Linked DNA regions of Homo sapiens: regions 2, 3 and 4 are each linked to region 1. Evidence: fine-mapped expression QTL. A gene starts in region 1. Each other region holds a variant in brackets. All regions are shown on one strand. Distances are between the middles of the regions. Region 1 holds the start of NTSR1 (neurotensin receptor 1). Region 2 overlaps NTSR1 (neurotensin receptor 1). Region 3 overlaps LINC00659 (long intergenic non-protein coding RNA 659). Region 4 holds the start of NTSR1-AS1 (NTSR1 antisense RNA 1).

Evidence for each region.
Region 2: its variant is fine-mapped to the expression of NTSR1 in whole blood (TOPMed, PIP above 0.99).
Region 3: its variant is fine-mapped to the expression of NTSR1 in whole blood (TOPMed, PIP 0.96).
Region 4: its variant is fine-mapped to the expression of NTSR1 in whole blood (TOPMed, PIP above 0.99).

The regions. Positions count from the first base shown.
Region 1 is chr20:62,704,534-62,712,312 of GRCh38, reverse strand. It overlaps NTSR1 (neurotensin receptor 1), which reads right to left and starts at 3,477. Exons shown (of 4, transcript NM_002531.3): 1 at 2,392-3,477. The coding sequence starts at 3,105. RefSeq lists enhancers at 2,186-2,730, 2,731-3,277, 3,487-3,999, 4,000-4,513.
Region 2 is chr20:62,740,937-62,748,715 of GRCh38, reverse strand. All of the region lies in intron 1 of NTSR1 (neurotensin receptor 1), which reads right to left. Among named protein-coding and RNA genes, the nearest start is that of NTSR1-AS1, 9.5 kb to the right of the region's middle. RefSeq lists an enhancer at 7,757-7,779. The variant C/T (reference allele first, on the strand shown) is at 4,910.
Region 3 is chr20:62,767,426-62,775,204 of GRCh38, reverse strand. It overlaps LINC00659 (long intergenic non-protein coding RNA 659), which reads left to right. Exons shown (of 3, transcript NR_046225.1): 3 at 636-1,084. Among named protein-coding and RNA genes, the nearest start is that of LINC00659, 5.5 kb to the left of the region's middle. RefSeq lists an enhancer at 5,541-6,272. The variant C/T (reference allele first, on the strand shown) is at 3,845.
Region 4 is chr20:62,731,509-62,739,287 of GRCh38, reverse strand. The region is part of intron 1 of NTSR1 (neurotensin receptor 1); the gene reads right to left. It overlaps NTSR1-AS1 (NTSR1 antisense RNA 1), which reads left to right and starts at 3,929. Exons shown (of 2, transcript NR_199009.1): 1 at 3,929-4,062; 2 at 6,106-7,779. RefSeq lists an enhancer at 3,660-4,505. The variant G/T (reference allele first, on the strand shown) is at 4,467.

The sequences.
Region 1 (7,779 bases):
CTCAGGGTATCCAGCCCCTCTTCAGCCAGACATCACCATCTGAAAACCGTGGATGTTTGCCCAGATCTGCCAATGGCCCAGAAGCCCACGTGGGGACCGTAAACCCCCTAATTCCGGGGAAACCTTTCATAAAATGGCAAATGGCGGGGCAGGGGTCAGGGGAAGCCAAGGCCTCTCCTACGAGGAATGTTCTTTTCAAGCACACAGAGCAGCTGGCATCGGGGCCCTGGAAAGCCCCAGGTCATCAGCATCGGATGGAGGAGCACCCTTGTAATCAGCTGCTCCCAGGCACGCAGCTGAGCCCTTTAAAGAAAAATGGAAACTACGTTCTCCAAGGGTGCCTTCAGCAACGCTCGGCCAGCATGGCGTCTGCAGGGCGTGGGGCCGCTGTCCTACGGTTGATACGTCACAGGCCTCTGCGATTGGACGAGTGCCTGTGGCCGGCCGTAGCGTGACTTGGCCAAATCTGCCTCGCAGCCTCTGAGCAACAAGGCTGGGCAGGTGGTGCTTTGGGAGGCAAAGTGATGTCCCCCAGGTGCCCAATCCCAAGTACCTGGCAGAGAGCCCACGCACGCGGGGAGGACACTTTCCGGGGGGCGGAGCCGAGCTGTCCTCACGCCCCTGTGCTTTTCGGCTGTTTGTTTTTGAGGACTGCAGGAGGCTGGTGAGCTCCTGGCCTTTTGCCAGGGGAGCAGGGGGATCGGGGTTCTGAGCGGGGGGATCGGGGATCTGAGCGGGGGGATCGGGGGTCTGAGTGGGGGGATCCGGGGTCTGAGTGGGGGCATCTCCTGGGTGGGCAGTGACAGCGCTGACCCCTCCACTGCCCACCTTCTGAAGGACTGAGTGGCTGTCGCCCCTGGGGCCCCTCCACGCGGACTGGGGAGAGGTTCCCCCTGGCCAATGCCAATCAAAGACAGGAGCTTGGGGAGAGCAGATAAAGCCTCAAAGGGAGGGAGAGGTCATTTCTCACTGTGTTTACCCCACAGGCCGTGCCTACTTCTGCCTCTGGTGAGGGGAGGGACTCTCGCCGCAGAAGCAAAGCAGCCCTGACTCACTGCCTGCCACCAGTGTCTGTGGGAGGGGCCTCCCCGAGATGGGACACCTGTAGCCACCAGTTCTATGTGCAGCCAGGGAGACTGGGAGCTCAGTTCTACCCTCCTCCACCCCCCAGCCCACCTGGGTGGTGGCCAGTGGAGGGTCAGTTAGGGCCCAGGGAGTGACAGACAGGTGACCCCCTGCCCGGCACTGCTGCCCTCACCCCCACCGGGCATACTGGCATACGCGGGGTGCCCAGGCAACTACAGAAGCTTAGCTGGGAGGCTGGCGATGCTGGTGTGTGGGGAGTTGGGGGGACAGCCAGCCACCCTGGCCCCTCTAGCTGGGCAGAGGTAGGCGACTCTGCCCGGATCCTTCACCCTCTGGCTTCCTTAGCCCACCAGAAATGGAGGAAACCCCACACTTCTAAGGCTGCTCATTTCCAAGATGCCTTTCAAAGTTCCCGACCGGCCCTGACTTCCTCCCTGGACACCAGCCTCCTGCTCGGGGCTTTGGTTTGATCAGCCCTCCCCTCCAGCACTGGAACCCCCCGTGCCACGAACCTCAGCCAAACTGATTCCCAAGGGGGCTTCCCACCCGCATTCCCACGGCGCTTTGCTCAGACCCTTGGAGGGCCCTTAGTCACTCGGCTCCAGTTTTACACACCTCACCACAACACCGCCGCCACACGCAGATCCTCACAACCTTCCCCGCAGAAACATCGTCCCCACCATCCCGCAATAATAGTGCCTGTGAGCCCTTCTATGTGTCAGGGGCCATGCAAACACTTCCCACGCGTCCTCTCTCCAATGCTCTACCTTCTGAGGTCAATGCTATCACTACCCCATCACACAGATGGGAAAGCTGAGGCTAAACTAGGAACTGGCCCAACACGGCATCAGGTTCTGTTCTGACTCCCAAGTTTGGGTCAGGGCAGGCAGCTGGGAGGCACCGGCAGAGCCAGTCTGGGGGCTTCTCTGCAGAGGAAGGAACATCACCTGTTGGTGGCACAGTCTTTTGAGAAGCTGATGAAAGTGTTACTCTTCCTTTGGAGACGCAGGTGCCAGCGCACATGTTTCCATTAGGCTTAAGGAATTCAGAGATGTCCGAGGCCCAGCCACCAACACCAGAGAGGTCACAGGCAGGGGCTCCATCCCCTCAACAGGAGGGAAGAAGATAGGGGCTGAGCCTGGCAACTCTGGAGCTGCCCCCAAGCTGCCCCAACCGCCTTCCCAGCCTCGCAGGAGTAGACTGTCTCTGTGACATCTCTCCCACTCCCTACCCAGAAGGCACACCACTGGCACTGCTTTTGGGGTGAAGGAGAGGGGAGCCCCGGGGCTGGTTACTGAGGCTCACCTGTATGACGACCTTGACGGTGGCAGTGTGGATGGTGGGGGTGCACACCAGGCCGCCGGCGTGCTGGCCGTCGGCGCTGCGGTTCTGCTCGCCCATGGTGAACAGCATAGGCACCGCCAGCAGGGCCGAGGCGAGCCAGATGGCGCTGATGAACTTCTTGGTGCGGCTTCGGGACATGAGGGTCTTGGCCTTGAAGGGGTGGCAGATGGCCAGGTAGCGCTCCACACTCAGGCTGGCCACGTTGAGGGCCGTGGCGTAGGTGCAGGCGTCGCGCAGGAAGTAGTAGCCGCGGCAGCCGGCGTCGCCGAAGGCCCAGGGGTGGTGCACCCAGATGAAGTTGTACAGCTCCACGGGCATGGCCAGCAGCAGGGTGAGCAGGTCGGACAGCGCCAGGCTGCCCAGGTGGTAATGCACCGTGCTCTGCAGGCTCTGCAGCGACTTCTTCCGCGCCAGCGTGAACGCCGTCACCGTGTTGCCCACCGTGCCCACCACGAAGAGCGCCAGGTACACGGCGGTCACCAGCACCTTGGAGTAGATGTCGGTGTTCACGTCCAGCTCGCTGCTGGGTGCCGCCAGGACGCGCTCCGACGCGTTGCCCGAAGCGTTGCCGAAGCCCGGGGCCAGCAGCGCCTCCTCCAGTCCGGCCTGCGCCCGCTGGAAGGGGTCGGCGGCCGGCGTGCCCGGGGTTCCCGGCGCGGAGCTGTTGAGGCGCATGGTGGGCGCTGGAGTCCGCGGCTCTGTCCGGCGCCTCCGGGGCTGGAAGTCCGGGCAGGAGTGGGCGCGTCTCAGGCGGGGACCGATGAACGGGAGCCCAGGGGAGGGCGCGTGGCGAAGACCAGCGGGCGCGCCGTCCAGTCGGGAAGCGCCAGACCCAGACGCGCCGCCCCGGGCTCCGGGCTCCGGGCTCCGCTCTCCTCCGGACTCCCAGCTTCCGGCTCCTAGCTCCAGAACCCGTGGTTCCTCGGGCTGTCTCCCGGCTCGGCGCTTGCCACGGGTTCCAGGTGCCTCCGATCTCCAAACCGCGCGGTTCCCCAGGCCCCCGAGGACAGCGCCCAGCCCGGCTCGGGCTGCGCGGGGCGAGCTTGTGGCGCCGGGAGGAGCGCACGCACTGCTGCCCGGGCGCGCTCCCCTCCCTCGCTCAGAATCTCCTCCCTCGCGCTCTCCGCGCACCCCAGCCCCGCACACCTCCCGCCGCGCCCGCGCCCTCCCGGCTCTGCGCGTCTCCACGGAGCCGGCGGCCGCGCGGCGCGCCCAGCAGTGGGGGGTGGCGGCGGAGGAGGGAGGCAGCCCCCGCCGCCATCCCCGCCCCGCCCGGGTGCAGCCTGGCGGGTCGCCCCCTCGCGCTCCCCGGGGCAGGGCGGGCTGGGGTGAGCGCTCCAGGGAACCAGGATTCCGAGCGGGCGCGGCGGGTATCGTGCACCAGACCCTTCCTGCCACCCTCTTCCCTGTTCTCCGCAATTTCTCGCACCGGCTAGGAAGGGAACTATGCACCTCCCCCAACCCTGGGCTCGCTCAGTTGGGGTGAGGGTGTATCCGGAGGGCAGGGAGGGAGGAAGCTCCCCGCTGGCAGGGCTGGGCGGCTGCGCAGCTGGTTGGGCCGACCCCCACTCCTGGGTGTCCACAGGGTGCCAGAAGCTGGGTGCCCAGGGGGCTCTAGGACCACTGGAGATTACATTTCTGGTGATTCCTTTTAAAATCTGGCCGCAGTCATGGGCGTGCCTGGTCTGTGAATGCGTATTTCTGGGATGTGCCCAGTGGAAATGGTGGGGGCTCAGGGCATAGTTATCACCTGGGGCAGGATGGCGTGAGGCAGTACCGAGGGACACCTGCAGGGGCTGAGGAGCTGAGGGGCTGGGTCCTGCAGAGGCCGGGAGCCACAGATGGTTTCATCAAAGTCTGGGGAGGGGTGAATGAGGGAGGGCAGAAAGCAGGTGCCCAGAGCAGCACCCTCCCCACTCAGGGCCCTGCATCTGGCACCCTGGGCTGGTCTCATGACGCTATGGGATGTGATGCCCTGGGCCCCTTATTACTGCCTGGATTTGTCATCAGAAGCCACCCTGAGAGCCTGCGCCCCAGCAGGATTTGGGAGAGGCAGCCCCAGCACGCATCCTCCCAGGCCCTGCAGGCTTTGCACACTCCCTCCCTCTGAGTGTCCTCACAGGGTGCCCCGGCCCCTGGCTCGGGAGCCAGGTGAGGGCAAGATTCCTGTCCTTTCCGTGTCCCCCCCAGCACCTGGTGGCACTGGCATAGGTGGCCAGGCACAAGCTTGCCCCCCCCTCCATGTCTGGGTTGCCCAGGGGCCCCCAGGGCACTACTGTCCCTTCTCTGGGCCCTCCCCGCCCCCTCCCCTGCTCCCTCCTCCCCAGAACCCCTGGGAGAGGTTGGGTAGAGCTGCTGCCCCATGTGTGCAGGGCTGGGAGGAGCTGCTCGAGTGCAGCCCAGGGAACCAGCCTGGCCTTTGTGCACATGGCTGGCTGCACCTGCTGTGCTGGGAGCAGGAAACCTGGGCAGGCTGGGGCGGGGGTCGCAGGGTGTTGAGGGAAGCGGGAGGCTGAGGAACCCCCTCCCGGGCCCGCCCAGCTAGGAGAATTCAAGGCTTCTGAGCCGGTGGCTGGCAGCGGGACTCTGTGATTATTCGTCCGTTCTCGCCCTGCTTTGGACTTCTCTGTTCAACCGGAGCCTGATACTCTTGTCAGGGGGCTGCAGCTCACAAACATCAGAGCTTAGAAATCTTGGCATCAAAGGAAACGCCAGTGATCCCTTTGCTGGAAGCCAGTAGATAGGATTGAATGTTGGCCCTGCTACTTCACATTTGGGCGAGTGTGCTTAGCGTCTCTGTGCCTCGATTGAGTCGTCTGTAAAATGGGAATAGCGGCTGAATGAAGGGCAGGGCTGTTACTGATGGGTCTCCACGGGGAATGAACGAGGTCGAATGGGCTGTCGGGTGTGAGGTGAGGTGTTCCATCCAACTAGAATAGGCTGGAGTAGGCCAGATTTGTCCTCTGGAAGACACGATTCACCAGTTAAGTACACAGGTTTTTTTATTTTTTTATTTTTTTTATTTGTTGAGATGGAGTCTCGCTCTGTCACCCAGGCTCGAGGGCAGTGGCGCGATCTTGGCTCACTGCAAGCTCCGCCTCCCAGGTTCTCGCCATTTTCCTGCCTCAGCCTCCCGAATAGCTGGGACTACAGGCGCTAATTTTTTTGTATTTTTAGTAGAGACAGGATTTCACCATGTTAGCCAGGATGGTCTCCATCTCCTGACTTCGTGATCCACCCGCCTTGGCCTCCCAAAGTGCTGGGATTGCTGGCGTGAGCCACTGCGCCCGGCCAAGTACAGAGGTTTGGGCGGGGACCTTAGCATCCACACCATGCCAGGGAGTACAGGTGCTGGACAGTGTGAGGTCCAGGCGCTCACCACTGTCTTGGTAACACTGGGGCCTGACCACGGGCTGGGCCATCAGGCGCCTCTGTCGAGACCCCCACAAAGAGGAAGTCCACAGCAATGGCCACTGGAGTCTGTCCCTCTGCCAGCCAAAGCAGGAGGATGCAGCGATTGTGCTCTCCCTCTGCCTAAGCTCATTGTTTGGTTTTTAAACCCCTGACCTTTTGGCTAAGCTGCCCTTATTTTCAAAGATTTATCTGTGAGTTGGCCTGGGAGCTTACAAAATCATAAAAGGCAACATAGTGCAAATATTGTGTTGGAGCATTTGCTTAAAACCACATAGGAAAATGTCACTTGGAAGGCCTTGTTCTACACAAGGCAGATGGCAGGCCTCCGGTGGGGACCCCTGGCAGCCACGCCGCTCGGCCGTTCTGAGCTCTTCTGTGCACTCACAAACCGGATGGCTCAGCGGCTGGAAGCTCTTAACTCCACGTTGTTTGCCCCTTTCTCTTCTGATTTCTGCAGACAGAAGCCCTTCCTAAACAGCTGAGACTCTTTAAAGAAAGTGCCGGTGAGGTGCTTGGGAAGGGACAGGCCAGGTCCGGTCATGCCCATTGGGGATGCAGCCACACCCTTGGCCAGCCGGATGCCTTCACTGACACGTGAAGTCGGGCACGCCTTGTGGGGGGCAGGGCTCCGGGGGCGAGTGTCTCCTGCAAGTTGGAGAGCCTTGGGGACCTGCTGCCCCGATCCCAACACTCCCAATGCTGCCTGTTGAGGAGCCGGCCGGTCCCATGGGCAGCGAGGACCGAGGTCCACGGGCACGGCTGTGATTCTAGGGTGCAGCAGGCGTGCTGAGCTGGGGCAGCCAGTGTGCTGGGGACAGCCTGGCTTTCTGTGATTTCCTGAGTGGTGTGAGCGAGGCATGTCCTTATTACCAAGCAAGGTAGTCATCTGTGCCTGGGGTGACAATCACGTCCAAAGAGTCACCACACAAGAGGTCCTTGGAAGCACGCTCCCAAGGGTGGGGGTCCCTGCTTGTTTCATTGGCTAGCTTACCCTGAGTCCCTCCAACACTGCCCGGCACGGGTGGGGGTCCCTGCTTGTTTCATTGGCTAGCTTACCCTGAGTCCCTCCAACGCTCAGTTGGCGCTCACTGGGTTTGTGTTGCACTAGTGGAGCAGATGCAATGGTGAACAGGATGAGGCCATGCCAGCAGGATGTGCGAAACCCGTCACTGGTTTGCAGCAGGCTTCAGGCTTCCAAATGTAGGAGAGCCACCATCTCTCCAGCCTCCAACCTTCTCTTCCCTCAGGCCCCCAACCGCTGTTGGGTGACTCTTGCTAGCAGGAAGGCTTCTTATTAAAATTGAAAAAATTAAGTTGACAATAACACCTGAATCAGTTATCTATTGCTGCATAACGAAATGCCCCCACACTCAGTGGCTTAAAACAACAGGCATTTATTATGTCAGTGGCAGAGTAGTTGGTTTCCTATGAGGACGAAGGCGGGTGGGGCAGAAACGTGGATGTGTTAGAGGCACAGAAGATACGTAATAAACATAATCGGTAGAGCCTGGCTATAGATTTTCCCACCCACAGCATGGAAATTGCACGTGTTCCAGGACGGACGGTGTTCGAAGGAGGATCTTTAAAAACAGAGCGGCACCTGCACATGTGTACGCACAGTGAGTGTTCGCAGGCGGGCAAGGAGGGCGGAGCCGCTTTCCAGCCTCACGCTGGCTGCGCTCCAGGCATCTCTGGGGCTGTTGGCAGATTCTGGGGGCTGTGCTACAGGCTGATCAAGCCTCAGTCATCGGCATCCTTGTCCTTCACATTCCCAGGCCGCCCCTTGGACCTTGGCCAGCTTTCTGGAAACATGAGCTGTGTTCTCAGGGAAGAACCAGAAGAGGAAGCAGGCGTGGCTGCCCACAAGTGCAGCGGCTGCTGCATGGGATAAGCCCCGGGAAGGCCAGGGATGCCGAGGGCAGGTCGGGGTGGCAG
Region 2 (7,779 bases), 36 kb before region 1:
CCTCTCAATCCTGCCACACTGGGGATGAAGTTTTAATAAGATTTGGAGGGGACATTCAAACCATAGCACCTTGTCAAAGATGATTTGACTGTACGAAAGTGGGTTTATTGCTGGGCTCTCTGTTCTGTTCCGTGGGTCTATGTGGTACTAGTACCATGCTGTTTTGATTACTATAGCTTTGTAATATAAAAGGAAATTAGGAAGTGTGATGCCTCCAGTTTTGTTCCTCTTTCTTAATGTTGCTTTGACTATTTGAGGTCTGTTGTGGTTCACTATGAATCCTAGGATTTTTTTTTCTATTTCTGTGTAAAATGTCATTGAAATTTTGATAGGGATTGCACTGAATCTGTAGATCACTTTGGGTAGTATGAAAATTTTAACAATATGAATTCTTGCAATGCATGAACATGAGGTATCTTTCCATTTATTTGTGCAATTTCTTTCATCATGTTATATTCAGTGTACAGGTCTTTTACTTCCTTGATTAAATTTACTCTTTTTGATGCTATTGTAAATGGGATTTTTTTTTTTTTTTTTTTTGAGACAGATTCTCATTCTTGTTGCCCAGGCTGGAGTGCAATGGCACAATTTTGGCTCACTGCAACCTCCGCCTCTCAGGTTCAAGCAATTCTCCTGCCTCAGCCTCCCAAGTAGCTGGGATTATAGGCACACACCACCACGCCCAGCTAATTTTGTATTTTTAGTAGATACTGGGCTTTGCCATGTTGGCCAGGCTGGTTTCAAACCCCTGACCTCAGGTGATCCACCCGCCTCGGGCTCCCAAACTGCTGGGATTACAGGTGTCAGCCACTGCGCCTGGCCCTCTTGATTTCTTTTTGGGATAATTCATTGCTAGTGTATAGAAACACAACTTATTTTCATATGCCAATTTTGTGTCCTGCAACTTTATTGAATGTGTTTATTAGTGCTAACAGTTTTTTTTTGTTTTTGTTTTTGTTTTTGTGGAGTCTTTAGGGTTTTCTATACATAAGTTCATGTCATCTGCAGAGACAATTTTACTTCTTCCTTTCTGATGTGAATGCCTTTTACTGCTTTATCTTGCTTAATGGCTCTGGCTAGGCCTTCCAGGACCATGTTGAGTAGTGCATCCTTGCTTTGCCTGACCTTAGAGAAAAAGCTTTCTACTTCTTATCACTGAGTGTGGTGTTAGCTGTGGGTCTGTCATACGTGGCCTTTACACTGAGTGTGGTGTTAGCTGTGGGACTGTCATACGTGGCCTTTACACTGAGTGTGGTGTTAGCTGTGGGTCTGTCATCATACGTGGCCTTTACACTGAGTGTGGTGTTAGCTGTGGGTCTGTCATACGTGGCCTTTACACTGAGTGTGGTGTTAGCTGTGGGTCTGTCATACGTGGCCTTTACACTGAGTGTGGTGTTAGCTGTGGGTCTGTCATACGTGGCCTTTACACTGAGTGTGGTGTTAGCTGTGGGTCTGTCATACGTGGCCTTTATTGTGTAGCATGCATTCAACACCCAGTTTGTTGAGTGTTTTTATCATGAAAGGATGCTGAGTTTTGTCAAATGCTTTTTCTGTATCAAATGAGATGATCAAATGGCTCTTGTCCTTCCTTCTGTTCATGTGGTGGATCACATTTACTGATTCATATGTGCTGAACTGTGTTTCCATCCCAGGGATAAATCCCACCTGCTCATGGTGGATGAGCCTTTCAACATGCTGTTGAATGAAGTTTGCCAGTATTTTGTTGAAGATTTTTGCCTCTTGGTTCTTTTCTCATAGCGTCCTTCTCTGGCTTTGGTATCAGGGTAATGCTGACCTTGTAAGATGAGTTAGAAAGTGTTCCTTCCTCTTCACATTTTCGGAATTGTATAAGGACTGGTGTTAATTCTTCTTTAAATGTTTGTAGCATCCATCGGCGAAGCAACCTGGCCCTGCCCTGGGGTTTTCTTTTTTGGGAGGTTTTTGGTAACTGATTCAATCTCCTTCTTTGTTATTGGTCCTTTCAGATTTTCCATTTCTCGCGATTGACTCTAGGAAGCTTGTGAGTTTCTAGGAATGTATCCATTTTTTCCAGGCTGTCCAGCTGGTTTGTATAAAATTGTTCACAGTTTATTATGATCCTTTTGATTTCTGTGGCATCTTGTAAAGTCTCCTCTTTCATATCTGATTTTAGCTATGTCTTCTCTCTTTTTTCTTGGTTAGTCTAGCTTCCCTCCACCTTTCTCCCTTCCTCCCTCCCACAAACATCACTGCCTTGGAGAAGCCATAGGAGCCCCTGCCGTCAGAGGTCTTGGATCCTGGGGAGGAGAGACCACTGAAAGAACCACCTGCAGTGACTTCAGGGCCAATAAGAGCTACAGACACAGCGATGCTGGCGGCAGCCTGGCTGCAGTAGTGCTGGGGGTTCCGGGAAGGCCTCTGCTTGGAGGTGACTTCTCATCTCTGACCTGATGGCACCCACAAGCCTACAGGGACCCTAAGCTCTCCTGGCAGACGGTCCAGCAAACTCACAGACCTGAGAACTCAGGGGGTGAGAACTGAACAGGAAGCAGACGGCCAGGCTGGGGTAGTGTGGGGGCCTGGTGGTGACCCGCCGGGCGGCAGCCTTGACCTTCCCCCTGGCTGACCCCTTCTCTGACCTCTGCTAGTGTGGCCCCCGTCCCTGCCCAGGCTGAGCGTCTACCTCTCTAGGCGTCTCAGCCCTGGCCACATAGGGTGGCCTTGAGGGACTTTGTCCAATGGACTCAAGCAGCTTGAAGGCCATGCAGGGCCGGCCAGAGGATGCCTCAGCGCCACTGATGCCACAGCACCCTGGCGCCTTTCGATTTGTCTCTAAAGAGAGCAGGGAGTCACCTGGCCCAGCCCCATGAATATTCTGGGGGACGCGTGGTGGCTGGGACTCCCAGACCGCCTGGCTTTGCAATTCCAAGCAGCAGGGGAGGGTCATGGCCAACAGCAGGGAAGCCCTGGGGACGGCGAGGCTGTTCAGCAGCTGTAGAGAAGGCCATCCAGTCCCAGCGAGGTCCACGCCAAGCTGGATTTGGAGGCGAGGCAGAATATGTGTCTCTGTCTGTCTTTGTATCTTTCTCCTGTGATGTCTCTGTGTTTTTCTCTGTGTTTTTCTGTGTCTCTGTCTCCTTGTATGTTTTCCTTCCTGTGTCTGTCTCTGTTGTGTCTCTCTCTGTATATCTGTGTGTTTTCCTCTGTGTCTCTGTCTTTCACTGTTTTCCTGTGTCTGTCTCTGTCTGTGTGTCTCTGTTGTTCCTGTGTCTCTATCTCTGTATCTCTGTGTCTCTGTTCTCCTGTGTCTCTCTCTGTCTGTTTTCCTGAGTCTGTGTCTCTATCTCTATATCTCTGTGTCTCTGTCTCTATCTCTGTCTCTGTTTTCTTGTGTCTCTGTATCTCTGTCTCTGTGTCTCCCTGTGTCTGTTTTCCTCTATGTGTCTGTTTCTCTGTCTCTGTGTCTCTCTCCATGTCTCTCTGTGTCTCTGCTTTCCTCTCTGTGTCTCTCTCTCTGTCTTTGTGTTGCTGTCTGTCTGGGTCTCCCTCTGAGTCTGGTGTGTGTACCAACATCCTCAGGTGGCAGGAACTGGCTGGGCCACCCTCCCTGGAGCCGGCTGGGTAGCTGGGCTCTGGGCCATGGGCCTCAGTGGCTGGGTCTGAGGTTTTAGGGGTGGATGTTCCAGAGCAGAAGGTCATGGTGGGAGACAGGGGTGTCTGCTGTGACAGCCGTGGTGGTCTGGAGGTGGGGCTGCCTCCATGGGAATCTCATTCGTGCTTCTGGCAGTATCCTCTGCTGTGTGCACCCCTCAGCTGCTACCCCTTGCCTCCTAGCCCTGTCTGGGTCTGGGAATGGCGTTTGAGTGGTTGGTAGGGCCTCAAGCCTCTCAGAAGCAGCCGAATGCCTGGGGTTTGGTGCCAGAAGTGGGGGCCTGGCTTGTTCCCTGGCCAGCTGTGAGCTCGGCAGGTCCTCCTGGGCCTCAGGCTCATTTCTCTCTTTTTTTTTTGTGAGACTGAGCTTTGCTCTTGTTGCCCAGGCTGGAGTGCAGTGGCGCGATTTCTGCTTATCACAACCTCCGTCTCCCAGGTTCAAGTGATTCTCCTGCCTCAGCCTTCCTGAGTAGCTGGGATTACAGGCATGTGCCACCATGCCTGGCTAATTTTGTATTTTTTTTTTTTTTTGAGACGGAGTCTTGTTCTGTCACCCAGGCTGGAGTGCAGTGGTGTGATCTCAGCTCATTGCAAGCTCCACCTCCCGGGTTCACGCCATTCTCCTGCCTCAGTCTCCCCAGTAGCTGGGACTACAGGTGCACGCCGCCATGCCTGGCTAATTTTTTTGTATTTTTAGTAGAGACAGGGTTTCACCATGTTAGCCAGGATGGTCTCGATCTCCTGACCTCATGACCCGCCCACCTCGGCCTCCCAAAGTGCTGGGATTACAAACACGAGCCACTGCGTCCAGCCCCTCAGCCTCATTTCTAAAAGAGCGAGCCTAGAGGTGCTGCCTCAGTTCCTGGAGCACTGACTGTGCTCCCTTGGGTGTGGGAAAGGAAGCAAATTGGGGGGCACAGGACTGCGGCTTGGGAGGCTGGGATGGGACACGCTGGGGCGACGGCTGGTGGGGCTGGACCTATGGGAGGGACAGCCTGGCCTCTGCCCCCTCGCATGTGTAATTTTGATGGGGAGGACGGAGGTGGAGTGAAAGGTTAGATAATGAAACAGCAGGTGTGTTAGGGGGATCTGGACCGGGGCGCAGCCTCTGGGTGGTTGGTCTGAGCTTGGCCGTGGAGACCAGGTGGGGAGCGGGAGGGGTGCACACGGTATGCCTGCCCACAGGTGAGGGCACAGCCAGACAGCAGGAGGGTGCCCCCGACACAGGCTCCAGACAGCCGGCCTCAGCCCCTCGACCTCAGGCAGGGCGTTCTCACCT[C/T]GCTCTTCGAGAGCAATTGCTTGTTTTGTATTCTGCCTTTCTCTCTAATTCATCCCATTGTGTTTAGATCAAGAGACAGCCCCAGACTGGCACACTGCTTCCCGGCTCCGCAGCCAGCCTGTGCTGAGTGGGAAGGTGCAAAACCCTTTTGCTTTGCAGAACCCAGAGGCTTTGTAAGATGGCTGCAGAGGCTGCGGGGCGGGTGGGAGGGGAGGCTCCTGTCCACACCCTCCCAAGGGGGTGACCGCTGGGGTGGCCTTGCTGGGCTGGCAGGGGATCGCCCTCTCCCTGAGCAGATGACCAGCCCCAGCAGGGCCCAGGCTCACGGACGGTCTTTTCTAACCTCCCAGACAGACTCCAGGTGGAGAGGCCCCCACTAGACCCAGCAAACACTGACTTGGGAGCAACCCTCAGGGTTCTCATGACCCCGAACTGCCTTCCCCACCACAGCTGAGGCCAGGAACGATGGCAGAGTTAATTCAGAAACCCTGTGTGCCAGGGCCGTCAGCACAGGCTTGTTCGAAACCCCAATGATTGGTGAACAACTCAAAGGCTCACCCTTTGGGGCTGGTCGCCATGGCATGACGCACCCACACCACGGGGCACTCAGCTGACTGGACCGGGGGCAGGGAGCAATGAGGCAATGGGTGGGCCTGAGATGGCCGGGATACGTGTCCAGCAGGGGCGGCTCCGTGCTCCCCTCCCAGCCTGACTCTCTGGATTGGAGCCTACCGAGCTGATCTGGGGAGAGGGCAGGGTAGCTGGGAGGGTCTCAGGTGTGTCCCCCAAAAGCTAGACTCCCACAGTGAACTACCTACACAAACAAAGCTAAACTCAGAGAACGTTCCACTTGCCTGTGCTGTGGGTATGTCCCGTGACAGGTGCCCTGGGATGAACAGGAACCCCACGGCCACACCAGAGCCACTGTGACCACCTCACAGCCCTGGAACTGGGGAAACACTGCGGGGAGAGGGATGGGAACCCTGGTGGGTCTCTGCTCCCCATGCCAGAGGTGGGGTGCCAGGGCCAAGAGAGCAAAGGGGTCTTTAAGGTGACACAGCCCAGCGCTTTCCAGGAGTGAGGTCATCCAGGAGGCTCTGACCAGTGGCTGTCCTCAGAGGAGACACCATGGAGGGACCCAGGGAAAAGCAGCGGCCACCCACAGGACACCTGAGACCTAGGGCCCTGTGTAAACAGGTGTCTGGGGAGCAGAGGACGGAAGGCATAAAGAACTGCCAGTGTGACCTTGTTCTAGAAGGTTCTGGTAGTGGCCAGCTTGGGATACTGTGCTGTCCCTCAGTCCCCAGTCTCTTTCCTCGGTCCTCCCTCCCAGGCATCTAAGCAGTACCAGGCCCGGCTCGAGATGCTGCTGGGATCTGGAATGCAAAGCTGTGGGACTTGCTGCCCAGTGGGGACACGCCTGACTCATGGTGGATGGGGGCCTGGAAAGCCGTACATTGCCGCGTGGTCAGCAGTGACCACAGACCTGGCCTGAGGAGGAGCCCACACACCACCTCCTGGAACGCCAGCATTTCTGAGTCCCTGAGGGCAGGACTGGAGAGAGAACAGGCGTGTGACCTGGAGGGGCCATGTCAGCCACCTCGGTGTCTGTGGGACCACTGTGGGGAGGGGATGAAATGGACGGCGCAGCTTCTGGCTAGTACTTGGCCCCTCACGACCCCGTCCACGCCTCCATCAGAGAGCTCTGATGTGCAGGTTTTGGCTCAGTATTAAAAATAACGGTTTGAATTCCTCTAACCTTCACTTTCTAGCTGACATCGACTGTCCTGGGGTCTACACATACTCTGTGTGCACCACCTCAGGCACACAGGTCTCATCTGTGAGGCAGAGGCTCCTGTCAGGCTCCTTTTGTAGATAAAGAAACCCAGGCACAGTTGTGAACCCAGGGGCCTGATCCCACAGCCTGAGCTCCCACTTCCTCCATCAGGGGCCATCCTATGAGCAGATCCTCATCCCCACTGGTGAAGCTTTGTGGCATGTACCTCACCTGAGCAGATGCCTTCTGTGGGCCATTGCCAGGTTTTGAGAGCATCTAGTCCAAGGCTGTGGCTCCTTGGCGACCTCTCAGGGACTGAGCCTGCCCCACAGCCTCTGTCCATGGCTCCTCCACTCTGTTCCCTGCACTTTTCTTCTGGTTTGGAATTTCTGGGAAAGGCTCAAGAGAATGCCAGAGCCCCAGGGAGCCTCAGGGGTTCAGTACCATGGACAATGCCCAGGCATGCTCGAAGGGGCGCACAGACATGGGGTGGGAGGAACATGGTGTGGGGCAGGGGGCCGGTGTAGGGACCCCCAAGCCAGCTGGGGGCAAGGACCCCATCAGGAGAACTCTGGCCACCTGCAGACCCGTCCTCTGAGCGGGGCTGGTGAGTCACCCGTCACCTCTGCAAGAGGTTTGCCCTCCTCTCCTCTTCCAGGCAGCAGGGAGCCCTGAGTGTGGGAGTTGGAATCTTTTCCCTCCTGATTGCTGGAGCTATAGAGGCCATTGTCTGAGTGGGGACTTGGCAGAACAGAAGCCCCTGGAAGCCACATCCTGTCTGTGCCCGGCTGAGCTGCGGGACTGGCAGCAGCCTGGCTGCCGGGAGACCCCTGACTTAGCAGCCTGGCTGCCGGGAGACCCCTGACTTAGCCCAGAGGGCCTTAGTCAGATTAGGGAAAGAGCCTTCCTGACACCCTTGCCTCCTCTACCTGTGCTGGGCAGGTGCCCTCCAGGACAGGAGGAGGGGAGGCCCCTGGCCCTCAGCCCCGGGAACGGCCCTCCCCTCGCTGAGCCTGGCCGGGGCCCAGAACCCCAGTGTGCCCCATTAGTCACTCTGAGGGCAGTGCTGGGGTGGCGAGTTGCTTTTCAGCTG
Region 3 (7,779 bases), 63 kb before region 1:
AGGCCGCACTGAAGGGACCCTCTGATCCTCATGCCAGCTCTTAAGACATGCTCCACTCTTAAGACAGAGACAGGAGCTCCCGGGCTCGTGCACACCCTCCCTCTGCGCATGTCCAGGACTCAGGGTCACAGCGTGGGCTCGTGATCCATGGGGTGGGACTCCAGCCTGCTCTGCCTTGGGTTCTGAGGCCAGAAGCAACACTTCCCTCATGTGGGTCCTCACAGGGACCAAGTGGAAGACTGGCGGGGGCGGGGCCCCAGAACTCCACCCACATTTGCACACTCAGCCTTCCCACGCCCAGCCACAGCTTCCATCCATCATCATTGTCCTGTCATGGTGGTGAAAACCAAATCTCTGTCAAAGGAGTTTTCTCCACCCCTTTTCCTGAGGTTGTAGTTTGGGGAGAAGTTTTGAAAATTGCCTGTCCTTGCTAGTGGCTGGGAGTGCTGGGGCACCTTGTCCTTGGGTCTTCTGTTCACACAGACCCCTGTCGTGGCTTCCACAGTCCCCTCAGCCCCTGCCTGGAAGGAGCACGCAGGGCCCTCCGCCTGCCCCAGTGGAGGGAGCACAGAGCCCAAGCAGCCCCCCGGAACTTTCCCCAGCTCGGCCTCATGGTCTGGTGGTTTCTTCTCCAGGTAGAGAGCAGTGAGGAAGGGGACTCAGCCTCCATGCCTCCCGCCAGCCCAGCTGCGCCCGAATCACCTCCCTCCTGAAAGGATGTCAGCCTCTGCTTGGACACCGTGGAGACAGGGCCCTCCTTGTGCTTCAGAAGCATCAACGTGTCAGAAAATCATCTTCACGCCAAGTCTGGAAAAAATGGCTTTGAGGTTGTGCACACAAAGGAAGGAGGGAGAGCCCCAGGTGTCGCGGAGGACCATGCGGCTGACAGAGCCAGCAGGGCGGTGGCGTGTGAGCCGTGCTCTGGATATATAAGGATCTGACGCTGCTGGCAATGTCTGAGCTCTATGCTCGCCCATCTGTCGGCTGCTATCATCACCGGGTGGGATTAGCGGAGATCCACTCTTTCATATTTAAATCTTCACAAGAGAATGAATCACTTTTATAATAAAAGAAAAAGACCGTCCATGTTGTTAATGTGCACACAGCAAGTTGGAAGGCCGGGGAGGGCAGCGGGTGGGGACGCTGACCCAGGCGCCCCCCTGCTGCCTGGAACAGCCCCAGGCCTGCTCCACTGTCCCCTCGGGGTTCCCTGTCGAAGAGGCCAAAGAGTGGAGGGGCTGGTGCCTAGAGGGTGTGGAGCTGCAGGTGCACAGTACAGCTGGCACCTGGCAGAGGTGGTTCATTATCAAGCAAAGGATGAACAAGGCACTTGGAGCCCCTTCACAACTGGAACCTCCACTGCAGGCACAAGGCTGGGCTGGACTGGGGTCTCCTCCTCTCCATGACAGCCTTGGGCAACCTGGAGCCCGCCACTGCCCCTCCCCAGGTGCTGTCCCCTTGAAGCTTCTCCCAACGGTTTAGTATTGTAGAGTTGGCACATCTCACGTGAACAAGAACAGCCATCACTGAAACGAATGCTCAGAGCGGACCGGCGTTTTTTCCCAGCCACCCTGGGGTGAGCATGGCTCACGTTGCACACCAGGAAGCCCAGGAGCGGGGAATTGAACCAGTTCCATCCAGTCCCTGGCAAGGGACCACCCTGTGTCCGAAGGCCACGTTCATTTTTCAGATTGCAGGAAATGGCTCAGCCTGAAGTTCAAGTTTTCCTCTGAGCTCCTGTTGATTAATGTGGCAAAGAGAGCATGCTGTGGAATATGCTGGCAGAAATGTCAGGATTGCTAAAGCGTTTCACTGCAAATGCTCAGGCTGGTGGGGAGGTGCCTTGGCACAATTCTGCAGAGGGTATTTGGCAATAGCAACAAAATCACAAAGGCACAAACCCTGTGACCCAGAAACACCAATTTCACGGTAGGAGCTGCTGCCGCAGGGGTTTGCCCAGAGCACAGGGAAAGATGTGCTCACTGTACTCGCTGGGACAAGCAAGAGATTGGAAAGAGCTCAGTGTCGTCATTCAGGGTGTCTCCTGTGTCTCCTGATCGCTATAAGGGGTTCCAGGCTGGTCCCCGGGGGAGGAGCTCCTGATCAGACGCAGGCCCTGCCCCCTCCCCAGCACAGAGCTGGTGAAGGAAGTGGACATTCATTCATTCAGGATGTTCTGAGTATTTCAGCACCACCAGGCCCTGGGAAATCAAGGTCTCAGCAGATGACGGTGGCAGTTTGATTTTTGGCTGAATTGTCCTCTACAGCAGTCACTGGGGGTTGCGTTTTTCTCACACTGCCCAGTCATGCAGCACACGGAAGCCATCCATATGCCATGGGAAAATGCTTTGTCTCCTGCCTGGGCGCCCCCCGAGCCAGTGAGTACAGTCCTGCCTAGTGGCAAGGTGAGTGTCCTGTTCCCAAGTCATGAAAATGCTCTTCACTGGGGCGGGTCTGCCGAGTTGGGAAGGGCACTTACGGTTTAAACCGAGAGACTCTCCCTGCATTTGAAATGAGGACATAGAGTTCTTTTTCTCTTTTCTTTTCTTTTGTTTTTTTGAGACGGAGTCTTGCTCTGTCGCCCAGGCTGGAGTGCAGTGGTGTGGGGTGATGGGGCAAATGGGGCAGGGCGGCCAGGTGGGGCCAGGCGGGCATCTCCCGAGGATGATCCTGGAGGTCAGCTGCCCGGTGTGGGTGGCCATGACCTTGGTAGCCTGTGACCTTGGTGGCTGTGAGCTTGGACGAGAACATTTTCTTCTGCCAGTGCAATGCCTAGAGAGGCAGGCCACTGAGGGCTGGGGCAGTGAACCCCGGGGACATCGCGTTGGGGAGTCCTGCCGTGATAGAGGGCCCCTGGGCACCACAGTGCAGCGTGTACTCCACCGTGGCTGCTGGATGGCCACCCATGGGCAGTGGAGCTGGGGCAGGGATGGCATTCCAGGTCTACAAAGTAGGGAGAGTGACGGCCCAAAGGAGCGAGGGTCCAGGCGAGCCGCACACGGAGGAGCGAGGGTCCGGGCAGGCCGCACATGGGTCGGAGGCTGCAGAGCCCATGCTGACGGCGCACACCATGGGCTCGGCCTGCTGTCCCTAGAAAGTGTGGGGCAGAAAGAACGGATGCACCTGTGTGCTCCTTGCTGGAAGTGGCAGGGGGCTCTTCCCATGCTGGATCTCCGGACACTCCCCTTGGCGCTCTGCCTGGTGGTCCGCCGCTGCACACGGGACACGGCAGGCTCCGTCCCCTCGGCGGCCACTCTGTCCCCTTTTAAGGCATGTCAGAAACAAAGCCCTGGACGGCTGTGGCTGGGTTGGGCGTTCGCCCCAGTCCCTTTAAGCCCTCTGGGAAGGGTGGGAAGTTTCCAAAACTTCCCGTTATCCACACCAAGCTCCTTGACCAGAGTCCAGTAATGGGACGCTGGCAGTGCCCGGATGCCCCGATACAGGCAGGAGAGGCACCGTACTGGGTTCATCCAAGGCCAGCTTAGGTCCTGGGAGCTAGGACGACCAGAGAGGAGAAAGGCAAGGCAGGGACATGGCACTGAGACAGAAGAGACCACCCCCAGAACAGAGACCCCCGAGAGGGCAGAGACCCCGAGACAGCAGAGACCCCCAGAGGGCAGCAATCCCAAGAGAGCAGAGACCCGGAGAGGGCAGAGACCCCAGGAGGGCAGAGACTCCTCAGAGGGCAGAGAACTCTGAGGCCAGTGACCCCCAAAAGAGCAGAGACCCCGTGAGAGGCCAGAGACCCCAGAGAGGTCAGGGGCCCCCGAGAGAGAGGGCAGAGACCCCGTTCCTTGTTTTTCCTTGTTTGCCACCTTCAATGTCATTCTTGCCCTCCCTCCCC[C/T]GCCGAGTGGGGGACTGTGGTGGCCTTAGCTACCCTCACGTGGCTTTAGGACCCTCAGAGCATAACTAAGCCCCCGAAGGCTCTGGTCTTCCAACAACATGATCTTTAGGAGGGCAAAGCTCCTGCGGCTCCTGTGGGCTGGCATTGTGACTGCCCTGGGAGGTGGCAGGTGTGACTCGCTGTCCCTGGGGAGGCGGGACCCCCCTGGGCACCTCTGCAGGTGCGAATCGGGGGTGGTCTTTCTCTGCGTGGCTGCATGGGGTGAGAGCCTCTGTCCCAGGGCAGGTGTGGGGACAGGCCCTGGTGGAGCGTGCGGGCCGGCTGGAGCTGGGGTGCCCGGAACTGTGGTTTGTGCAGGCCCAGGAGCCTCTGTCCTCGTGTGATCTTTGTGCACTCAGGACTTCGAGTCACACCTGGATTTGGTGAAGGGCTCCGGTTTTAGTTCCAGCTCTGGTAGCCACACCTCTGGGATCACGGGCAGGTCACACTCCCTTTCCCAGCCTGTTTCCCCATCTGTACGACGTGCATCCTCCTGTCGCGAGGATGTGTAGGTGCAAGAGACGTCCACCTCACCTGGCCCTGTCTGCAGGCATGAGGCTCTGTGAGGCGGGGCCCTCCCTGGGGACTCTGTGGGGATGAGGCCCTCACCTGGGGACTCTGTGAGGGGGGACCCTCCCTGGGGACTGTGTGAGGATGGGGATGAGGCCCTCACCTGGGGGCTCTGTGGGGCTGTGCTGTCAGCTGGGTGAGGGGAGTCCTGGCCATGGTAACAACAGGTCCAGGAGCTTGCCCCTTTGCCCAGAACATTCCTCCCATCTGCCCCCTCCAGGCCTCAGCTTCCACGCCTTTCCCTCCAGGGGACCTCCTCTTCCTTTCCTAGTTCCCCCACCTCCCTCCATATTCACCCGTGCGCATGCCGGTGAGCGGGCGTCCAGGCTGGAGTGCCAGCGTCTGGGTCTGGGTCCCGGTCCTCAGGCTGGAGTGCCGGCATTTGGGTCCCAGTCCTCAGGCTGGAGTGCCGGTGTCTGGATCCCGGTCCTCAGGCTGGCGTGCCAGTGCCTGGGTCCCGGTCCTCATGCTCCCTACACCATGGCTGTCTCCTGATGTTTTTGGCTGACTCTCCCTGGAAGCAGAATGAGGCCAGGGTTGATGTGGAAGCTGTTCATTTCTTTGGGAGGTGACCCAGGAAGACAGGGAGTAGGGAAGGGGATGCACCTGTAAGGGCTGATGGCTTAGTGCCCCTGCTGAGCACCCTCCAGTGACTCCCCTGGAGCGGGGAGGAGGCTGAGTATTTATCCAACTCCTGCCTGTGGGGGTAACAAACGAGGCCGCTCTGGGGGTGCGACTGCCTGATAGCCGGCCTGCCCCAGCCCAGGCAGAGAGCCCTGGGCAGAGCCCCCTATTGCCGCCAGTGTCCTTTCCTAGCGGTCATTCTCACTGCTGTACTTGCAGCGTGGTGGCCCAGTCACAGGCCCTCCCTACCCCCAGGGTTCTGCCCCATCCTGACAGGGCTGGCCAAGAGCCTGGCACTGGGGCCCGAGATGAGACCTCAGTGCCACATAGTGACTGGGGTGGGGGACCGACCAGAGTGGGTGGGAGGCAGGTGCTTTCTGAAGTGTGCCTGGCCTAGCCTTTGTCCAGCGAGCTCTAGACACAGCTGCTGACCCTGAGGGCTCCGGCACCTGCCCTTTTGCCCAGCTGCAGACTGGCTCTCGGTGGCCATGGGCCTTGAACCAGGTCAGATGATGGGGGTTGAGCTGACAGGGCCTTGCTCCAGGCCCTGGGTAATTGGCTGGGGTCTGGGCCTGGCTGGGGGTGTCCCCAGTGGCTCTGCTAGTCACCTGGTTAGTTGGCCTGGCAGGATGAGAAGCGGCTGGTCTCACAGACCCAAGGAACGAGCCCTTCCTGGTGAGATGGGAGGCCCTATGCAGGCTGAATGTGCCCGGGTGTGAGCACTTGTGTGTGTGCACTCATGTTCACATGCCATGCCTGTGTGTGCGTGCAGGCATGTGTATATGCATTTGCCTGTGTGTGTGTGAGTTGAGTGTAAATGTGTGCATGTGGGTGCATGTATGTGCACAAGTGTGCCTGTGTGTACACATGTGTGTCTGTGTGTATATGCATGTGCTGGCACATGTACATGGGTGTGTGCCCATGGGTTCATGTATGTGCACAAGTGTGCCTGTGTGTACACGTGTGTCTGTGTGTGTATGCATGCGCTGGCACATGTGCATGCTGTGTGCATGTGCATGGGGTGCCTGTGTATACGTGCACGTGTGCTGGGGAGGGCCCACTCACCACGTGCTGCGGGCGCCCTGCGGGTGCCAGCCCCTCCTCGTCTGCCTTGCTCTCCTGCCCTGCCTTGGCTCCCTGCCTTCCCCTCACCGGTTCTCTCTCTGCTTGGCGTCATTCCTTTCATAAATTCAGCCTGGCCATGGTTTCCATGGTGCTCTGATAAAAACTGGAATTCCAGTCATAATTGCAGGGAGTTGGGGAGCTGGGAGAGAGGGTGGAGGCAGGAGGGAACATTTTCTATACAGGAAGCTCAGGTCTCAATGGCTGTGGCTGGTTTTTCTTCCTTCAGAGGTATTTAGAGTGTATAGAATTCTCTCTCAAGAGCTCCCCTGTTGCCTCGCGATGGCGACGGGCCGGCACTGTCCTCCTGGGTGGGCCTCCTAGCCGATGGGCTTCTGTCTCTGTGCTGGAACAGGGCGGAGCTCGGCAGACCTGCTGGGTGGGGAGGGGCTTGACCCGGGCTCTGGCTTCAGGGGACTGGAGTTCAGGGGTGCCTGGGGCAGGCTGCCCGGCCAGTGTCCCCAGATCTCCCGCTCCATGACTGAGCTGGAATTCCATGGTTGTATTTCCATTCCTATGATGTTGTCGTCAATGTCAGTGTTCCTCCGGTTGGGGTGCAGTGATCTCCTATGCCCTGGAGTGAACGGGGGTTGTGAGAATTCCTTGCAGGGGCTGGGGCAGCAGAGCCCCACACCCTCCGTTCTGTGCCAGCCAGGGGGGTGCCGAGTCAGCCAGGTCCCGAGGAGCACTGAGCAGATGAATGAATGAATGGATGGATGGATGGATGGATGGATGGGAAGGTATAGGGAGGTGGCTCTCCCACCCCAGGGCGCATCTGACTCTCCTGGATAAGTCGTTAACATGCAGATTCCCAGGCCACCCTACCTTCTGATCGCCTGGGGCTCAGCTGGGGCCTGGGAAACTGGTCTGGAACAGGCTCCCTGGTGGTTCTGACGTGAGCCCGCCCATCTGCCTGCCCAGGAGACACAGGGAACAGGGGCAGCAGGAGCACTGGAGGCCTGTGGTTGGGAAAGGGGCTTTCTTCTTTGTCCCCCAGAGGACAGCGTTTGGCTGTCAACAAGGCCCTGCCTCTGCCCTAGTGGCTTGGGGCTGGGCAGGGGGGTTTGGGGGACCCCTCTGCTATGTGAGATGGAGGCAGAGGCAGGGAGGTGGGAAGGGGGATGAGGCAGGGACACACCCGGCGCAGAAGGCACTTCTGTGGGGCTGTCAGCCCTCAGGGGGGTCCTGCCATGGGGGTGTCTTCTCGTCCTCCTGTGGGGGTGTCCTCCCGTGGGGATGGGAGGGAGGGCCTCATCAGCTCAGAAGCAGATGGTGGCTGGGTTCTTCCTTCCTTCCTTCCTTCCTTCCTTCCTTCCTTCCTTCCTTCCTTCCTTCAACCTTCTTTCTTTCTTTCTTTCTTTCTTTCTTTCTTTCTTTCTTTCTTTCTTTCTTTCTTTCTTCTTTCTCTCTCTCTCTCTTTCTTTCTTTCTTTCTTTCTTTTCTTTTTCTTTCTTTCTCTTTCTCCTTCCTTCCTTCCTTCCCTCCCTCCCTCTCTTTTTCTCTTTCTCTCTCTCTTTCTCCTTCCTTCCTTCTCTCTCTCTCTCTTTTCTTCTTTTCTTTCTTCTTTCTTCTCTTTCTTT
Region 4 (7,779 bases), 27 kb before region 1:
TCTGGGATCTCAAGAGCATAGGACGTGGGAGACTTGGTGAACCAAGAGGGCCCAGGGGCCAGGGTCAAGCACAGCCAGAGGGGGCCTGCTGCCCGGAAGTGTCCTGGAGAGCCTCTCAGCCTGTCCCGGTTCAGTCTCAAGAGCCCAACGGGTCCCCAACGGCGCCACACGACATGAGGTTCCACACGCGTCTCCCTCACAGCCACGCAGGGCTTTCCTTTACAACAGTGAGGAGGCTTGGCTTTTCTGTTTTATGAATGGCTCAGTGCATGAAAACACGCGTGTGTAAAAGATAGATCACTGGGGAGGCGACAAGTCCCAGCTTTCCCATTTCTAGATCCTAGAGTCAAGAACAAGGCAGCCCAGGATTTTGGCCTCGCTGAGTGACCCTGAGCATATTTCCCTTCTCGTGCTGGCCCTGTCTCCTCCTCATGATGGAAGGGGATGGGCTGGTCCATTTTGGAGATCTCTGGCCTGAGACCTAGACCCTCCGCCATCTCTGCTGCCAAGAGCAGCAAGGCTGGAGCCACCTCGAGGACCAGCGTGAGCCTGGACGTGTTCCCAGCCTCCAGCCCGGGTTCCTGCCATGCTAACCCCGCGGGCAGAAGAGAGGCAGTGCACAGGGCTCCCTGCCAACACAGGCACGGCTGAGGCCTGTGGCCACCTTGCAAGGTAGGAGCCCATGAAAGCCAGAGGGCTGATTGGCTCCAGGAGAAGCCTGTCTCTAGAGAGAGACAAATGTACGGCTCATAGGCTCGCCGGGAGATTTTCATGATACTTCGCTGGTGGTCATCAGCCTGTCCTTCCACCCTGCAGGAACGCAGCGGCAGCTGAGGCCTTTTTAGGAAACGAGGCCTCCCCATGGCTCGGGCTATTACTGCTGGCAGCTGGGAGGCTGACCCCACAGCTGCAGGCTTCTCCCCAAGCCGGGCTGCAGACCTGAGCAGGGAGTAGTTTGCCTGACTCTTCTTGGAATGTTCCAGAACTCAGTGGCTGCACCTGCCTTGTCTGTCCCTGTCCCTGGGTTCATCCAGGCCGGCCATCTAGCACCCTCCGTCACCCTCTGCGTGCACCTGGGTTCATCCAGGCCGGCCATCTAGCACCCTCCATCACCCTCTGCGTGCACTGCGTGCCCAGGCCCGCCTCGTGGAGCCTTCAAAAGCCCTGACGGTGCACCTGATGCATCCAAGGCACCTGGCATAGGCAGAGGAGGGGGAGGGGGGCAGACGTGGGCAGATGGGCACTGCAGGGAAAGGGATGCGGCTGTTGCGGAGGACCAGGGGGCATGCAGCGTGGTCTGGGGGAGATAAGGGGCCATTTTCCAGAGGAGGGAGCTTTACGCAGAGGCTGCAGGGCTGAAGGGCATCTGTGGGCCAGGAGGAAGGAGGTAAGAGTGTGTGAGGTGGTGCAGGGGTGTGGGGGGTGGGGAGGACCGGGGGCAGGGGTCAGGTCATCAATCCTGGACTTGGAGCAGCTCAGAAGTGGGAAGCAGCAGCAGGAGGTAAAGCAGGAGGCCGCTGCAGCCACAACTGCATTCTGGGTTTGCTCTCAGGGGTGGGGCCAGGGAGGGACCCAGGTGTGGCCTGCATCCGGGGCTGGACCTGGCGATGGGCAGATGTGGGGACGAGAGCAGGTGGGAAGGAAGGAGGATCGCAGCGCCCAGGCAGGGACGGCATCTCTCTCCAGGCTCTCCTCAGGCCGAGTGGGGCAAGGCCACAGAGGGCTCGTTTAAGTGCAGGCGTGGATGCTGCATCCCATGCTCGGCCCCTCCCTGCAAGTAGGACAAGTGGCCCCACAGAGGTCACGTGCCTGCCGCTGTGCCTGATGAGCAGGGGTGCAGCCGTGAGTCAAGGGGCTCTCCGACTGCACGGAGGGAGCCATTTCACCTCTGGACACGCATCCTAGGGTGGGGTGGGTGAATGCTTTCTGTGAAGGTCCAGAGAGTGAGTCACTGTGGCTTCGTGGGCCGGAGGATCTCAACTTTTGAGCAGAACCACTCACTGTGGCCGCTGTGGCCAACACAGCCATAGCAGTACGTACATGAGCAGGTGGGGCTGAGTGCTGATGAAACTTTACAACTCCAGGTGGGTCTGGGTTGGCCCCGTCCTCACGAACACGGGGCTGATCATCGCACCATCCATCCGGGAAAGACTGGGCCCAGGCCAAGTGTGTGAGTCCATTTTCGCACTGCTCTAAAGAACTGCCGAGACTGTGTAGTTTATAAAGGAAAGAGGTTGAATTGACTCACAGTTCTGCAGGGCTGGGGGAGCCTCAGGAGACCTACAATCATGGTGGAGGGAGAAGCAGGCACTTTCTTCACTGGGCAGCAGGACGGTGTGAGTGACAGCAGGGCAAACGCCAGACGCTTCTAAAACCATCAGATCTCATGAGATTCACTCTCACAAGAACTGCCTGGGGGAACCGCCCCCACGATCCAGTCACCTCCCCCTGGTCCTGCCCTTGACACGGGGCATTATGGGGATTACAATTCCCATGAGATTTTGGGTGGGGACACAGCCAAACACATCACGAAGTAACTCCTACGCCAGGTGTGTGCATGTGGCCTGGGCCCTGGTCACAGATGGAAAATGAAGCAGTAAAACAGAGGAGGGTCTCAGCTTGCGGGTCCTATGCTGAGGGTCCAGGTTGTTCCCTGGGAGCCACAGGCCAGGGCCTCGGAGTCCTCGGAGTCCTCGCTGGGAAAGGGGCTCTGCTGGAGGTTTGGGCCCGCCCTGCATAGCTGGGAGCCCTCTCTTTGCCCCACCCACAGGTGGAAGCCACTTCCCTCCTCTCCCAAACCCCCTCTCCTGGTTCCCCAGTTGGAGTGATCCACAGAGGAGATTCTGCGTCTAAACTGGGACTCAGGGAAGCTTCTGGAACTGTGAGAGGGGTTTGGTTCCTGCCTTTCTGAAGACAAAGTGGCGCCTGTCTTTCAGGGCATTGCGCCTGAGGGTACAGAGAGTGGGGCTCTGCCTCTGGGGTCCCAGGGTCTCCCCAGCTGCCAAGGGCAGCAGCCCCAGACCCAGACAGGGAAAGGAGCCTGGCTTCCCTTCCCGCCCTGCTCCATGGGGCAAGTGCAGAGAATCCCCAGCCACGATGCCCCTGCCCGAGGCACCCCAGGCTCCAGGCAGATCTCAGGCCTCCTAACCCAGGCCCTGCCCCGAAGGGACAAGTTTCAGAACAAACTGTCCACTGGGCTAATACCCCGGCTTTTGTGATCACCACATACTGATTTCTATCGAGGGATGAAAATTGACAAATTTAAACGGGAATTACTGGGCTCGGAAATTTGTTCTTTGTAATGAAGGGAACAGTTGAATACAGAATCTGAATTTGGGATTCAGACCAGACCCCCTCAGAGAAAGTGCTGAACCCGTGAGGAATTGGAGGGTAAGGGGAACTGTTCTTGGCAACTCCTGTCCCATTTCCTTTTGGGATGGGGGCTGCTCCCGCCCCCTGCACAGCCCCACAGGTCACAGCGGGGAAGACCCTGTCCCTGGTCCCCGGTCGCAGTGTGTGCCCTTTCCTACTTCCCTGCACGCCAGCCTCAGGAGGTGAGCTCACCTCGCCGTGTCGGGGGGACTCCCGTGTTACCCACCCCCCAAGCCAGGGAGCGGCCTCCAGGGGAGCATGGGGGAGGCTGAGGCCACCTTGCGGGGAGGCTGTTCCTGGGGCTGGGACGCCTCTCTCTGAATCATCCCCGCCCACAGAAGGAATTCATCTCACTCCTAATAATGTGTTTGTCACAAAGACATAATCGGCTCATCTGTGAGACTCCAGCGTGCACAGCGGTGCTGGCTCTTTGTTGTATAGTGGCAGTCTCACTGCAAGGCCGTTGGGCTTTGAGGAAAGGGAAGGAGGCACCCACTCTCTCCCCGGGGGGCCCCTGCCTTCCCTCGCAGTCCCACCTCTTCCGCCTGCCTCCATCACAGCAATTCAAATAACTATGAATGGGGCTACCTGGGAGCCCCACATCCCTGGCTGTGGGAACAGGCTGACCTTCCAGCACAGTGTCCTCCTGGTGCCAGGCACTGCCCCTCTGCCAAGGACCCTGCAGGCCTGGTAGGTCCCCAAGGGCACCCGTGGCCTCCCACCCCCTAACCATGGTTTTGGCACTGAGCTGGCGGCCAGGCGGGGCAGAGGAGGGAGCTGAGCGTCTTTCTTTAGTGTGCACGTCACCGCACACGATGGCACCCCACTGGTTGCTGCCCATCATGCAGGGCTGCCTCCACATGGGGCCTCAGCACCGGCTGGTGCCTGGCACCCCGCACGCGGCACCCCACCCCAAGGGGAGGCTGTACAGGCTCTGGACACACCCCAAAGCCACCCGAGGGCTGCTTCTCATCAGCAGGGAGGGGCTCGGGCAGCACAGTCCCGTGGAAATAGGATGCAGGCCACGTGAGGCTTAAATGTACCAGTAGCTATGTTACAAAAGTGGAAGGAAACAGCTATGATAATTTTAATAC[G/T]ATATCTTATTTAACTTAATGTATTCAAAATATCATATCAACTTGCAACGGTATTAGTGAGCTATTGTATACCGCCTTTCCGCATTAACTCTAAAACCCGGTGCGGATTTCAGGCTGAAGCTCATCTTCACTCAGACCAGCCATGTCTCAATGCCCAGTGGCCACGTGTGGCCCAGGGCTGCCACATTAGACAGGGCTGCCTGCAGCTTTTATGGGAAGCCACCTGGGCCAGGCACACCAGCGCCTGCTCCTCGCTCCCCAGGGGTGGTCTTGGCCCCAGCTCTGCTCAGCAGAGAACCCAGAGCCTCCAGGTCAGCCCCGGACACAGGGCGTGGGCATTGCACAAGGTCAAGAATGAGTTACTCATTTTCAACCACCTAAAAAGATGGCCCCAAAATGAAGCCTGGGTAAGACAAGGGGCCACGTCCTTCCAGGAGCAGAGCTCGGCTTCCTCTGCATCGGCCACAAAGCCCCTACTGCACCGAAGCCCAAGAGCTGAGCCAAGATTTTTTTTTTTTTTTGCGGGGAAGGGGGTCACACTCCAGAGAAGGCTCCAGAAAAGCTCTCATCCCAGACCTCGCTGCCTCCGCCCGCCCCTCACGCCCCATCTCTTGCCCGTCCCCCACCAGGGCTGAAGAGTGAACTCAGTAGTAACCCACGTGGCTGAGCCAGAGAAGGAGGCTGCGCAGGGGACAAGGCGGTCGCTTCCAGGATGAGAAGCGCAGACTCGAGGTCGGGCAAACCTGCCGCCGGCCCCAGCCGTGTGCATCTGAGCAAGTGGCTTCCCCCAGCCTCAGGCTCCTCATCTGTGAAACGAAACCCCCTCCAAGCTGGGCTGGCTCAGCACCCAAAACCATCATTTAAAATGCGACCCTGCCTGGGGGCTGTTCGAATCCTCTATTGAGATAAAGTAGCAATCATACATTCATCAGTCACTACTCCCTGCTGGAGGCCTCTTCCCCAGCACAGAGCCTTCCCTCTCTCAGCTGAGACCCCAGGCAAGGGTAGGGAGAAGAGGGTGCTGTCTCCCTCCCCCTCCTCCCCTCTCTCTCCTCTGTTCCTCCCTTTCTCTCTGTGTCTCTCTCTCCTTCTCTCCCTCTCTTTGTGTTTCTCCCTCTGTTTCTCTCTCTGCCTTTCCCTCTCTCCTCTCTTTCCTTTTCTCTCTCCCTCTCTCTTCTCTATCTCCCTCTTTTTCTCCATGTGTGTATCTCTCCTCCCCATCCCCAGAAGCCAGCCCACATGGCTCACCCTGCATTGCTAGGTGAGACAGGCCTGAGCCCTAAGCCAGGAGTCAGCCACAGCCGAGCTTTCCAGAACTTTCTAGAACCTTCCCTTTCCAAAGTGGAAATCTGGACTAGAAGGCACGATTCCCACTGGGGAGCTGCCAGTGGCTCCCTGCCCAAGGGAAACACAACTGTCCCGAGAGATGCTCATTTGCTCCCGGAAAGGAGCGCAGCAAGCTTCAACCAAGTGCTTCAGGAGGGAACCAAGAGCTTCATTCTTCCCTAATTGGTGCTAATTTTCAGCCTTCCCAGAGCTGTGCCTGGGAGGTGCAGAGGTGCCTCCAGGGTGGCCCTGCGGGGACCGGGATGCACATTTCTCTGTTAGGCTGGTAATCAGCTTGCATTTTCTCTGACAGATCTTCTTCCGAAAGAACGTCTACACACTGCCGATGACATTTACTTCACTCAGAATTTGCAAGTCCAATGCCGACATGAATATGCACGGCACTGCTGCTTGGATACGTGGCCTCAGGGCCACGCCTGCGGGTGATGTGACAAGTCCACAGACTCCCGTGGCGGCTTCTCACCGAGAAACATTCCAGCACCTGGAGGCTGCCAGCTGGGAACCCCCTTTAGGCGACGTCAGCGCCGTTGGTTCTCAGCCTGAGCCGCCCCCTGTGCCCGCTGTGGTCCTCCAGGCCCAGGCAGGGAGAGCCCGAGGAAAAGCAAGCGGAGGGTCAGATGGGGAACCAGCGTGCCTGGAGCCACGCAGGGACACGGACTTAGAATTCTACCTTGCATTTAAGGAACAGATGATAGATACTCTCTACAGTCTCTTCCAGGAAATAGAAGCAGAGGAACACTTTATAACTCACTCTACGAGGCCGGCATTACCCCAATAACAAAACCGAGGATGTTACAAGAAAGGAAAACGCAGACCAGGATGTCTCATGAACACAGATGCAAAAACCCTCAACAAAACAGCAGCAAATCCAGCATCACATACTAAGAATTATACACCACAGGATTTCCCAACCAGCACCACATACTAAGAATTACACAAATAGCAGCGAATCTCATGCAGCGCTACATGGTAAGAATTAGACAGCACAGGATTTATTCCAGGCATGCGAGGCTGCTCCAGGGTTCGGAAACAGATTATCGAAATCCATCATGGCAACAGGAACTATTTTCCAAAACCCAACACCCATCTGTGAGAAAAACCTTTCACAAGCCAGGAATACAAGGGAACTCCCTCAGCTTGGTAGAGAACATCTACTAAAAACCTACAGCCCATGTCATACTCAATGGTGACAAACCTGAAGCTTTTCTTCCTAAGATAGGGAAGGAGGCAGGGAGGCCCCCTATCCTCACTCCTATTTAACGTCATACTGTGAGTTCACAGGATGGACACTACCGATTTCAACACTTGCTATAAAGCCCCAGTTATCGGTACAGTGTAATTTTTTTTTTTTTTTTGAAATGGAGTCTCACTCTGTCGCCCAGGCTGGAGTATGGTGACACAATCTTGGCTCACTGCAGCCTCTGCCTCCTGGGTTCAAGTGATTCTCCTGCCTCAGCCTCTTGAGTACTTGGGATTTCAGGCACCTGCCACCATACCTGGCTAATTTTTGTATTTTTAGTAGAGATGGGGGTTTCACTATATTGGCCAGACTGGCCTCGAACTCCTGACCTCAAGTGATCCACCCGCCTCGGCCTCCCAAAGTGCTGGGATTACAGGCGTGAGCCACCACACCCAGCCAGTAAAGTGTAATCGTGGCTAAAGAACAGACAAATATTCCAATGGAACAGAAAAGAGAGCCCAGAAGTGGACGGACACATGCATGGGCAAATGATCTTTGAGAAAGAAGCAAAAGTTATTGATGTTGAAAAGACTGTCTTTCAACAGATGGTGCTGGAACAACTGACATCCACATGTAGAAAAAAATGGGTCTTATACCTTTCAGGATAATTAACTCAAAAGGCCTCACAGACCTTAATATAAAATGCAAGATAATACAATTTATAGATAATAACACATTTTATTTAATATAAAATACAAGATAATAAAATTTCTAGGTAATAAAATC